Linked DNA regions of Homo sapiens. The protein of the gene in region 1 interacts with the protein of each later gene in a biochemical or structural test. Each region holds a gene or a part of one and is shown in the gene's direction. Other genes may lie near its edges.

Region 1 (2,951 bases):
GAGAGAAAGAGAGAGGGAAAGGGAGGGGGAAGGAGGGAGGGAGGGAGGAAAAAGGAAGGAAGGAAGGAGGGAGAGAGGAAGGTGGAAAGAAGGATGGGAAGAAAGGACAGGAAGGAAGAAGAAAAGAAGTCCATCCATCCCATCCATCATGCTTCTTCACCTGTCCAGTTTCTATCTATTATGGAAACCCATGATCTAGGTTTCCCCACCGTGGGAACAATGTTACTTAACTGCTTCAGCCCAGGTAGTGGTTTTATCACTAAATGGGAAGATTTCTGTCCTAATCAGTATCCTGTCAACCTAGTAGCTTAAGGACAAGCATTAGATTTCAGCTTTTCTTTCCTACCTTTTTAGTGGGGCCGCTCCTTAACTGAAAACAATTTCTCAAAAGTACTCTCCCACTATTTCTGCAGACCCTCTGGAGACTTTGGGGTGTGGCTGGTTCCTGAGCATATCCAAATGGTGCCTTCCCAGGTGTGTGTTCCCATCTTTGTGCCTCACAACAGTTCACTTGTATTTTCCCTCTTTGTCTGGCAGGACCAGTTTGACATGGTGAGTGATGCTGACCTTCAAGTCCTAGATGGCAAAATCGTGGCCCTCACTGCTAAGGTGCAGAGCTTGCAGCAGAGCTGCCGCTACATGGAGGCTGGTAGGACTGGGTAGCCCCTCCAAAGTGCCCATAGGCTTAGGTTCATTCTAGAGGTCAGGAATTACTAAATGAATGGTTCAATGACTGCAGCATCTTGTTGCAGCTAAGACCCCTTTGCTGGGCTCCCTTAGGCATAAAAAGAAATGTAGGATAACTAACGGCTTTTGTGTACCAACAAATGGACAAGATACGCATTTGTTCTCCCTGCCACGATTATCAGTACACTGTCCCCACGTTTCCCTTTATTCCTGCTTCTTTAACTGGCTACGCCTAAGTAAGTGTTCAACCTCACACCCACGCCACTTGTAGATGGAGGAGGAAAGAAAATTAGAAGAATAAATAATCCTGTATGGCTTAGTTTCCATGTGAGATGATAGATCCAGAGCAAGGTGGAACACCTCAGGGAGCACCCACTGGGAAAGACAGAACTCCTTCCTCAGGGGTAGCAAGTGACCCCAGGCGGATGTGGTTTCAGAGCTCAAGGAATTATCTAGTGCCCTGACCACACCAGAGATGCAGAAAGAAATCCAGGAGTTAAAGAAGGAATGCGCTGGCTACAGAGAGAGATTGAAGAACATTAAAGCAGCTACCAATCATGTGACTCCAGAAGAGAAAGAGCAGGTGAGCTGGAAGGCTGTAGGACCGCTGTGCAGGTCCAGAGTGAACATCAGGGCTGAGCCCCAGAGGGCTGCTGTGGTTCTGAGGAGTTAGAGGAACTTGCTTTTTCCTTCTAGGTGTACAGAGAGAGGCAGAAGTACTGTAAGGAGTGGAGGAAGAGGAAGAGGATGGTAAGTGTGTGGGAGCTCCGAGACAGGCCCTGGAGGTGCCTTTGAAAATGGCAGGCACCAGATCAGCCGCTACACAATATCATAAACTGACAGGCAGTGCCCAGTGCTGCCCATCTGAAAACGGGTGGTTTTATTTCTTGTCAGGCTACAGAGCTGTCTGATGCAATACTTGAAGGATACCCCAAGAGCAAGAAGCAGTTCTTTGTAAGTGGAGCTCTCTTCCTTCTTTGCTTCCCTGTGGTCTTATCCTGGTGACATCTCATTCACTTGTCTCCCTGTCTCACAGGAGGAAGTTGGGATAGAGACGGATGAAGATTACAACGTCACACTCCCAGACCCCTGAGGGGCCCACGGTCAGGACTGGTGGGGACTGCAGGATGTCAGAAGAGTGAGATGTCTTGCACTGGCTACCTTGTTTTTGGTTGGCTTTTGTTGTTGTTCCTGCTACTTTCACCTTTAAGCAGAGCAGTCAGGAGACAAGCATAAACCAGAGCACTGGGTAGAGAGGATGAGGGCTGGTGGCTGGGGGTAGACCCAGCCCATTTCATTGTCTAAATTGCAGTAGCTTGAGGTTAACATTTAGACTTGGAACAATGCTAAAGGAAAGCATTTGGCAATATTTATTATAATTTAATTTTATATAAAAATATTTAATTTCCTCTGGATAGTCAAACCTGCCAGATATCAAACCTGAGGAAGGCAGAAGTGAATTTGGAGAACTAGGGTAGAGAGAGGTTGCTATAAAACGAGCATTTGGAGGGCCCACGGCTTCACTCAGGACCTGCTGGGCTTGTGTACCCCAGGAGCCCTTTTAAGTATCTTTTGTACGCTTTTCACCCCACCCCCAAGTCCTGGGAGAAATGCAGGCAACACTGAGACATGGGAGAGGCCAAGATATGCTTGACAGAAAGGGTGATTTTGAGGCTCAGTTAATATTTCAAAATTGTAACCGTAGCAAAACTGCATTGGTATTTAGAAAAATAAAAAATTTCCAATATGTAGTGCTGTGTTATACCTGCCTCTGCCATGCAGCATCATAGCCTGTGGGAACCGGGAGGGCTTCCCTTACCACCCAGAGCAGAGGAGGAAGGTGATGGAATATGGGGTGAGGGGAGGAACCTGGTGGCCCCTCCCTGAGATGGCCAGAAAGCCCTTGGCCTCACCTGGGACTGACCAGGCAGCCCTAGTCTAGGCACAAGGTGCCCTTTCACCCTTCATGGCTGTGGGAATATTTCCTCTTACTCTTTTTCTCCCATACAGCTACTGCCAAAATGCCCAAACTTGGGCCAAATGTTGCCCAAACTTGGGCCAAAAATGTTGCCCAAGAGACCAAAACAGAGGAAAACAGTTTCCAAATCTATGTAGATCATGAGCAGAAATCTGAGGCTTGAATAAAGGGCTGAGAGGGCAGGAGCTCTTTGGGGTGTCCAGAGCAGACGCCCATCCCAAGGACTTCCATGGAGTGGGGGGAAGGCTGGGTAGGTTTGAGTTTTATCGTCAATATAATAAATTAA
Region 2 (7,857 bases), on another chromosome or scaffold:
TCTGAACTCCTGGGCTCAAGCAATCTCCTGCCTGGGCTTCCAAAGCGCTGGGATTACAGGCGTGATTGTGAACAATGACGGAACACAATAAAAATTCGTTTTGTTTTCTTGAGGGTTAAAAAAAATCCAGCATAGATGGAAACTCTGGAAGAGGTTACATGAGTCAGTCTTGGAAGGAGAGATGAAACAACAGAAATTAGGAAGACCTAACATGGAGCTAGGCATGGCGGCAGCGCCTGGAGTCACAGCTGCTTGGGAGGCTGAGGTGGGAGGATCACTTGAGCCCAGAAGTTTAAGACCAGTCTGGGCAACATAGTCAACAGACTGTCTCTTTAAAAAAAGACCAAATGTGACACTGCTGACGATGAACTGTAAATATTAATATTATTGAATTCTACTTCCATTCTTCATTTGTTTTTTCTTTTACCCAAGCAGGCCACCATCATGGGCTCCTTGGAGGTTTTCAGAATCAGAGAGAGGGTGGGTCCCTCCATAAGCCACTTGCATAGTTCAGCATATCTGAGATTGTCCTCCAGGAGCACATTTCACATGAAGCCAGATGCATCCCTTTCCAGAGGAGAGAACGAGTTCAGTTTTGCCTAAGGAGACTGGAAGGGCAAGTGGACATTTGATGTTCTACTCACTCTTCTGTCTGTTTTTCACTGTTAAAGTCACTGACCAAACAAACGTCTAAGCACCCTTGGTCCACCAGCCTTTTGGCTAGGTGGACGGGATACCGGGATGAATACTGAAGCCTGTACCCTCACAGAGCTTACAGCCTGCTTGGAGAAACAGACCAGATACTTACAGTACCATAAACTGCTGTATTCATTAGCAAATATTTACTGAGTGTAGAATGTTCAGGTACTATGCTAGTCTCACTAGGGAATAGCAGTAAACAAAAAAAGCTCCTCTTCTCACAGACTTTCATTTTACTGGGATGAAACAAATAACTGAATACATATAGAGCTAGCTACATAATTACAGAGCCTGGTGCAAAATGAAAATGCAAGGCCCCTTGTTCAAGAAGTATGAAAAAGACATTTTCCTTTCTTCTGTGGTGTCTCCACCAGTCACAGTGTTTTTTATTTGCTACTTAATGTTATACTCTCTTGGCCATAGGGATACTTGCTGGGTGAGTGTAGACCCACAGGCACCTGGAGTCACCCTGGAACTCAGACTCCCCCCAGGCTTGTGCTAAAAGAGGGCACCAGAACATGAGTTGTTCAGGGAATAACAAATAGTCTGATATGGCAAGACCACAGAATTTCTCAAGAAGAAATTACTGATGAGGCACCGTTATAAAGAGTATGTTACTGTGCCTGTTCTTAAGGAGTTTACATTCCAGATGGAAAGATTAAAAGAATAACTATAAAACAGGGAAAATTAAAGAGCCATGGAGAAGGGTTAATAAAGTATAATGGAAGTTCCATGTTATCACATAGCTGATGGGGACAATCCTCTTTATGCCTGTGTCCTAGCATAAATAGGAATAGCATTCCCTTCTGTTCTCAGAAGTGTCTCAGTTCGGATGATAAATTATATATTCACTAGACATCAGTCTTTCTCAACCTTTTTTCTCATTACCATTCCCATAAAGAACCTTTTTAGATGTTTTTTCCCTGTTCACAATGCCATCCCCAGTCCCATGAAATTTTAATACCAGAGATATACTGTACATCTGTTTATGTACTGAGAGCCACAAACCACTGGAGCACAAACCATCTAAGATCTTTTTGTCTCCCAGGAACCCATTTTGATGTCATCCCATTGAGAATGACGCCCTACCCAAATGACATGATTGCATTGTCATTTCTAACTCAGAAGCTGTGTTGTGACTGACAGGTTGATAATGTTTACTATTTCTTCCTTAAAATTTTGTTAAATAAGCAGGCGGCCATTGGCTTGAAGCTGTCTCCACACTTTGAGTTCCTACCTAAGGAATTGTAAGGAACTGCAACCTAACGTGGTACACAAACTGAAAACCAAGCATGGTGTGTAACAAACCCCCAATTCTCAGCCAATCACAAGTAGCTGAGCTTCAGCCCACAGGCTGCCGACAGTGGCCAAATAATTCAAACAAGGAGCTGTAATCAGTCAAGCTATTTCTGTAACTCACTTCCCTTTTCTGTCTATAAAAACTTCCTGTTGGCTAGGCATGACTCACACCTGTAATCCCAATACTTTGGGAGGCTAAGGCAGGAAGATTGCTTGAATCCAGGCGTTCTAGACCAGCCTAGGCAACATAGGGAGACACCATCTCTATGGAAAATTTTTAAAAAATTAGCCAGGCATAGTTATGCACATCTGTAGTCCCAACTACTTGGGAGGGCAAGGCAGGAGAATCCCTCGAGCCCTGGAGTTCTAGATTGCAGTGAACCATGATTGTGCCACTGCACTCCAGCCTGGGTGACAGAGTGAAACCCTGTCTCAAAAAAACAAAACAACAACAACAAAAAACCTCTCTGGCCACGTTGCCGAGAGGAACTCATTTGTCTAAAGTTTTTCTTTTAAAATTTTCTCCTCTCTTGGTTTTGCATTCTCCTACTTCTTTTCCTACATTGCAGACTTTTTCCTCAGTCTCTTCCAAGTGACTTGACTTTGTTTTCCTATTTCCTTTATAAGCTCCTCCTGCCAGGCACGGTGGCTCACGCCTGTAATCCTAGCACTTTAGGAGGCCAAGGCGGATGGGTCGCCTGAGACTGGGAGATCGAGACCAGCCTGGCCAACATGGTAAAACCCCATCTCTACTAAAAATACAAAGATTAGCCGGGGGTGGTGGTGGGCGCCTATAATCCCAGCTACTCAGGAGGCTGAGGCAAGAGAATCGCTTGAACCTAGGGGTTGGAGGTTGCAGTGAGCCAAAATCATGCCACTTCACTCCAGGCTGGGCAAAAGAGCGAAACCCCAACTCTAAATAAATAAATAAGCTGCTCCTATAGGTCATGCTTTTCAGAATGTCAAGGAAGGGGCATCAGAAGGTTATCTGAAGTTTAAGGTATTTGTACTGAAAATGCAAAGGAACCAGAGGCAGTAGAATGTGTCTTCTTTCCTAGGTGGCGGTGATTCCCAGGTCTGGTTGATCAAGACTGCAATGCACAACAGGAACCTCAGAGAACTGTCACAGCAGCTCTCAGTGACACTTAGGATACAGATGCAGCTTAAGTGACCCTTTTTTATATCCATTTAGCACTCATTTTTCCCAAAAGAAGACCTGTTTGGGTCAATTTGTTACTGTCCCAGGGCAGGCTTTTGCACTGTGTCGCTTTAGAGGCAGGGGCGGAGGAAAACTTGGGACTGTAACATCAGTACTGCACAAAGCCCTCTTCCGTATACAGCATAAGCACTATTCTATAAAATCCCCAGCAAGCCTTTGTTTCCTTGCAGTCAGCTCCTTTTCTGCTGATTCTGCCCATTGCTCCCTTGCAACGTATTTTCATGCTTTCTCTAATGATTCTGCCTTTCTTTACTTACAACTGCCTTGGTAAATTTTTCTGCCACAGCGCCACTGGCCTCAGATAGTCACCACTCACCTGCAACAAGCCTGAGAGCCAATTAAGACAAGGCTTTCCCCAAGTAGCACAAATGTATATACCACTACTGTAGTTACTTAATGTACTCATTTATCATTTTAAAATTACCTTATGTACCATCAGTTACATGGTATAACTCTTACAGGAAAAACCAAATTAATGGAACTCTGCAATTCAATGTACCCCTTCCTCTGCCTCCAGCAGAAGCAACAGGGGACATAAATTCCAACTTTAGATGCTACTCTTATAGCATCTACAAGACTTACTACACTGTGTGTGTGTGTGTGTGTGTGTGTGCGTGCGTGTGTGTGTGTTACAGAGTCTCACTCTGTCGCCCAGGCTGGAGTGCAGTGGCGGGGTCTTGGCTCACTGCAACCTCTGCCTCCTGGGTCCAAGCGATTCTCCTGCCTCAGCCTCCCGAGTAGCTGGGATTGTACAGGCGTCCGCCACCACGCCTGGCTAATTTTTGTATTTTTATTAGAGATGGGATTTCACCATGTTGGCCAGGCTGGTCTCAAACTCCCTACCTCAAGTGATTTGCCCGCCTCGGCCTCCCAAATTGCTGGGATTACAGGTGTGAGCCACAGCGCCCAACCGTACTTCTTACACCTAAAAATGGTTCAAAACACCATAGAATAATTTTCAAAATAATTGAATTCTGAGTTAAAATTTTTCAGCACTTTCAGGGGCCTGAGCTTTTGCTATGAATCTGGATCTATTCTCAAGCCATGAAGTAGCGTATTTTTGACCATGTTGATTTGAAATTCATTCCGTTGTTTCCTTCTTTTTTAAAACCTAAGGGAAAAACAAACAGACATACACAGGATTTGAAAAGCTGGAAAGCAGTGGGTAGCGGCTCGGGAGAAGATGAGGGGTCAGATTAGAAGACGAGAAAGGAATCCAGTCCGCCCCAGACAGGACAAGTCCGGAAGGATGGAGGCAGCGTTTCCTTCCTCAACAGCCTAAACGCCTCTATTTTTTACATCCAAACTTAGGCCATATTTCTGCGGCGCCAAGAAAACGCAGTAAAAGCAAAGGCAAGATGTCCTTAAAAAAAAAAAAGGTCACATTCACAGAATACCGAGGAGACGGAGGCAGCTCTGCAACCCGTCCACTGAGACGCGGACACGCTCCCCACAGCCCCGGCCCCAGGCCCGCGCCCCTTCCCCCGCCGGCGGCTCGGATGGGTCGCTAGGGGTCGCTGCGCGCCGCGCGGGCGAGGACCGGCCTCTTTCCCCCACCTCCACCGTCTCGCTGCTCCGCCCCCGCGGCGTAGTCGGCGCCAAAATCAAACGCGTCCTGGCCTGTCCCGCCCCTCTCCCCAAGCGCGGGCCCGGCCAGCGGAAGCCCCTGCGCCCGCGCCATGGTAAGGACTGAGGCTACGGTCCCGCGTCTTCTTCCTCCCTAGTGTGTGGGCTTCGCCGCCCCTCGGCTGCATGTGGATCCCGGCCTGGCGTTGACCGCCATTCCGGGCCGCGGGAGCGGTCGCCCGGCTCTCGGCCTCACCGTGTAGGGGCCCAGCCCGGCCCCGCCGCAGCCACTCCGCACTCTGCGGCGTTCCCCGCCGCTCCTGTCCGGAGTCCCGAGGCGCGGGGGCATCCGCGGCCTCCCCGCCGGCTGCACCCCGCGTCTGTCCCCAGGGCCCGTTCGGGCGGGTTAGGTTAGAACGCGGGAAGCGTTCGCGAACGTGACCCGAGAACTTCACCAACCTGGATTTATCTAAAAGACCACGGGGCCCTTGAGAACCTGGGCTCCCTACGCCTCCAGCTTCGGCCCCGCGTGGTGTAGCCCCCCCCATTAAGAACGGGGAGAGAAAGCGCAAGTGGGCGGGAGGGACTGCGGGGAGCGAACGTCTTGATCCCAAAGCGCACTCCTGGTTTGTCACCATTGAGTGGTTTTCTGTATTGTAATATGTAGAGCACATTCCAGAACTGCTCAGTTTCGAGTTACCTAATGGATCTTCACTGTGTGCCAATTAGTCGATTTCTGTGAAAACGCCCCGGTTTCTGCCAAAGGGCAGGAGTCGCTGCTCTTGTGCCGGGTGCTGCTGGTTGTGTAGGGCGCTGTTGCTTTTTTAAGGACGCTCTGCACTGAATTAGGCTTCCTCGTGGGTCATGATCAGTTAAGTCCTGGTAAGATCGGCTTTGTGAGCTTAACGTCTTTCTGCTCATCAAATCATTTTCATAAACCTTCAAAGTTTCATGCCGTTTTTTCTGCTTCAGTTGGCGAAGAATCAACATCTGGTTAAATGGATCTAAGATTTTAATATCTTCATTTACTTACGTGGCCGTTAAATGTTGCCGAGCTAAGGGGGGCAGGGTGGGACACCAGGATCCAGTTGTATGGTATTTATTTGAAGATATTTGTCCAGATGTAGTTATAAATGATAACGGCTTCTTTGTGGTTAAACTAACAACCCAGCCACCTGGGCGTGAAGTGCTCTAAGGAGCCAAACAGGACTACAGTTAAAACAAATCTGTTAGCAGTGCCCTTCTGTGTTACAATTTTTCTCTGCAGAGTTGCTGGCCTCGTATAACTGACTTGGAGAACTGTGCAGCTCAAACGCGCGTTGTCCTTTTACCTAATCTATCTCTCTACACATGAATCACCTGCTAATACTAAATGTGTTAACTCTTTAGAAGCTTACCTCCGATAATAGAGAATCCTTTTAAAAAATTAAAGCTTTTGATAAGATGTGGACTTCCTATTTTTTAATATGTGATCGAGAAATAAATTTAGTGTTGGTCAAAGGTAAACTTTTGATTGATTATGAATTAATAGCTGTTTTCATTTGGTTAGGCATCCTAAGTAAATAGTTAATGAGTTCAGGCAATTTTTGAAATTGGAGAAGTGCAGTGCTGAACTCTGAGAGCAGCAGTGATGTCTACTTAATAATTCTTCATAATTTTATCGTAATTGATTAGTAGGGCTGGCTGTAGGAATTCCATAACTTCTAACTGAGAAGGTTCCTCAGATAACATGATTTTTTAAGTGGTTTAAAATACTTCCAGAAAGCTTCATAGTCCTTGAGTCAGGTTTTGAGTCTCCTGACTTACTAATTTGAATGCATCTCTAACTTATACTATCAGGTTTTTCCTAGTCTTAATTAAATATTAGATAAATCCTCATTGATTTTTTTGAGAAGTTTCTAAATATGAGTATTAATATGGCATCTTTTTACATTAGTTATTTTAATTCTGGCTATGATACTCCTACTGTGGTTAATAATAGAAATTATTTCTAGTCATGAAAGAGACTGATGAATAAATCAGCCTGAAAACAAGGTAAATGGATGATACAGCTCATCCACATTTCTTGAGTAACTTTCATAGCTGCTGAGCTGAGTGTTGAGAGCTTTCCTAAAACTGGGTACCCCAGGACGCTAGATTCTCCTCATTGCCTGCCTCTGGGGGGCAGATTCTTGTGGAGTGCAAGGAGCTGTTTCGAATATCAAAATGTTAGGAGTCTTTCCTAACACTTCAGGATCTGCTTTCTGCTAGTGCAGCGACACACTGAAATTCTAAAGGGATTCCCATTGCCCCGCAGCGCCCTTGACATGGCCTTCAGATTCTGGGCTGACAAAAGTAGGGTTCTCAACCCTGGGGCACAATTAAAAAATATGTTGGAGAGGATTTTTAAAATAAGTTGGAGGATTTAAAAAATATGTTGCCCAGGTCCCATTCCAGAGATTTTGATTCCATTCATTAGAGATGAGCCTGGGCATCGGTATTTTTTAAAAACTCCTGAGGTGATTCTAATGTATGGCAGTTTAGGACCTATTGGACTAGAAAAATATGTTGAAGGAGTCTTCTAACTGTTATGAATTTCATGCTTGATTTGTCAGATACTGCAGAGGTGAGAATGAAGGGAGGCAAATAGAGCAGTCCTGGACCCTAGCTCTCAGCCCTAGGTTTAGTGAGCAGATCTGTATGGGTTCCTGGAGTTTGCCTAACTGAGATTTCTCTGATTTGTCTCTTCAAGCCAGGCAATACATGATGTCACTGAATTCACTATGATTAATTCACCTGTTATATCTATGGGAGTATGGTAGGTGTTGGGGGGCTTAGGAGCCTGAGCAGCCTCAAATTTTAGAGTTGGGGGCTTTAGATACATGGTCCTAAAATTAAGAGCTTTATGTCTCCCTTGTCTAACTTGGCACTAAGCCCTGGAAAGGCAAAGGCAGTTCATGTTCTGAAGAAGTTTTTCAGTGTGCTGATACGGACAAGTAAACATCTTTTCAATGTAGTGAGTGATTTGATGAAGGTGTGTTCTGGGAATACATGCTTAGCCTGTGAACTCAGGGAAGTTCTGGAGGGAGAGTGCC

Evidence for each region. The genes of interacting proteins can lie anywhere in the genome.
Region 2: the proteins of PSMC3IP (region 1) and MND1 form a complex in vitro, tested with the Homo sapiens proteins (one study listed by IntAct).

Annotation. Positions count from the first base shown.
Region 1 is NC_000017.11:42,571,797-42,574,747, reverse strand, and holds the end of PSMC3IP (homologous-pairing protein 2 homolog), read left to right. Parts: intron 1-413; exon of another isoform or gene 414-432; intron 433-537; coding exon 538-649; exon of another isoform or gene 650-929; intron 930-1,124; coding exon 1,125-1,270; intron 1,271-1,383; coding exon 1,384-1,437; intron 1,438-1,544; exon of another isoform or gene 1,545-1,581; coding exon 1,582-1,641; exon of another isoform or gene 1,642-1,723; coding exon 1,724-1,780; 3' UTR 1,781-2,438; downstream 2,439-2,951. UniProt on the Homo sapiens protein: Plays an important role in meiotic recombination. Stimulates DMC1-mediated strand exchange required for pairing homologous chromosomes during meiosis.
Region 2 is NC_000004.12:153,339,842-153,347,698, forward strand, and holds the start of MND1 (meiotic nuclear division protein 1 homolog), read left to right. Parts: upstream 1-4,846; 5' UTR 4,847-4,896; coding exon 4,897-4,899; intron 4,900-7,857. UniProt on the Homo sapiens protein: Required for proper homologous chromosome pairing and efficient cross-over and intragenic recombination during meiosis.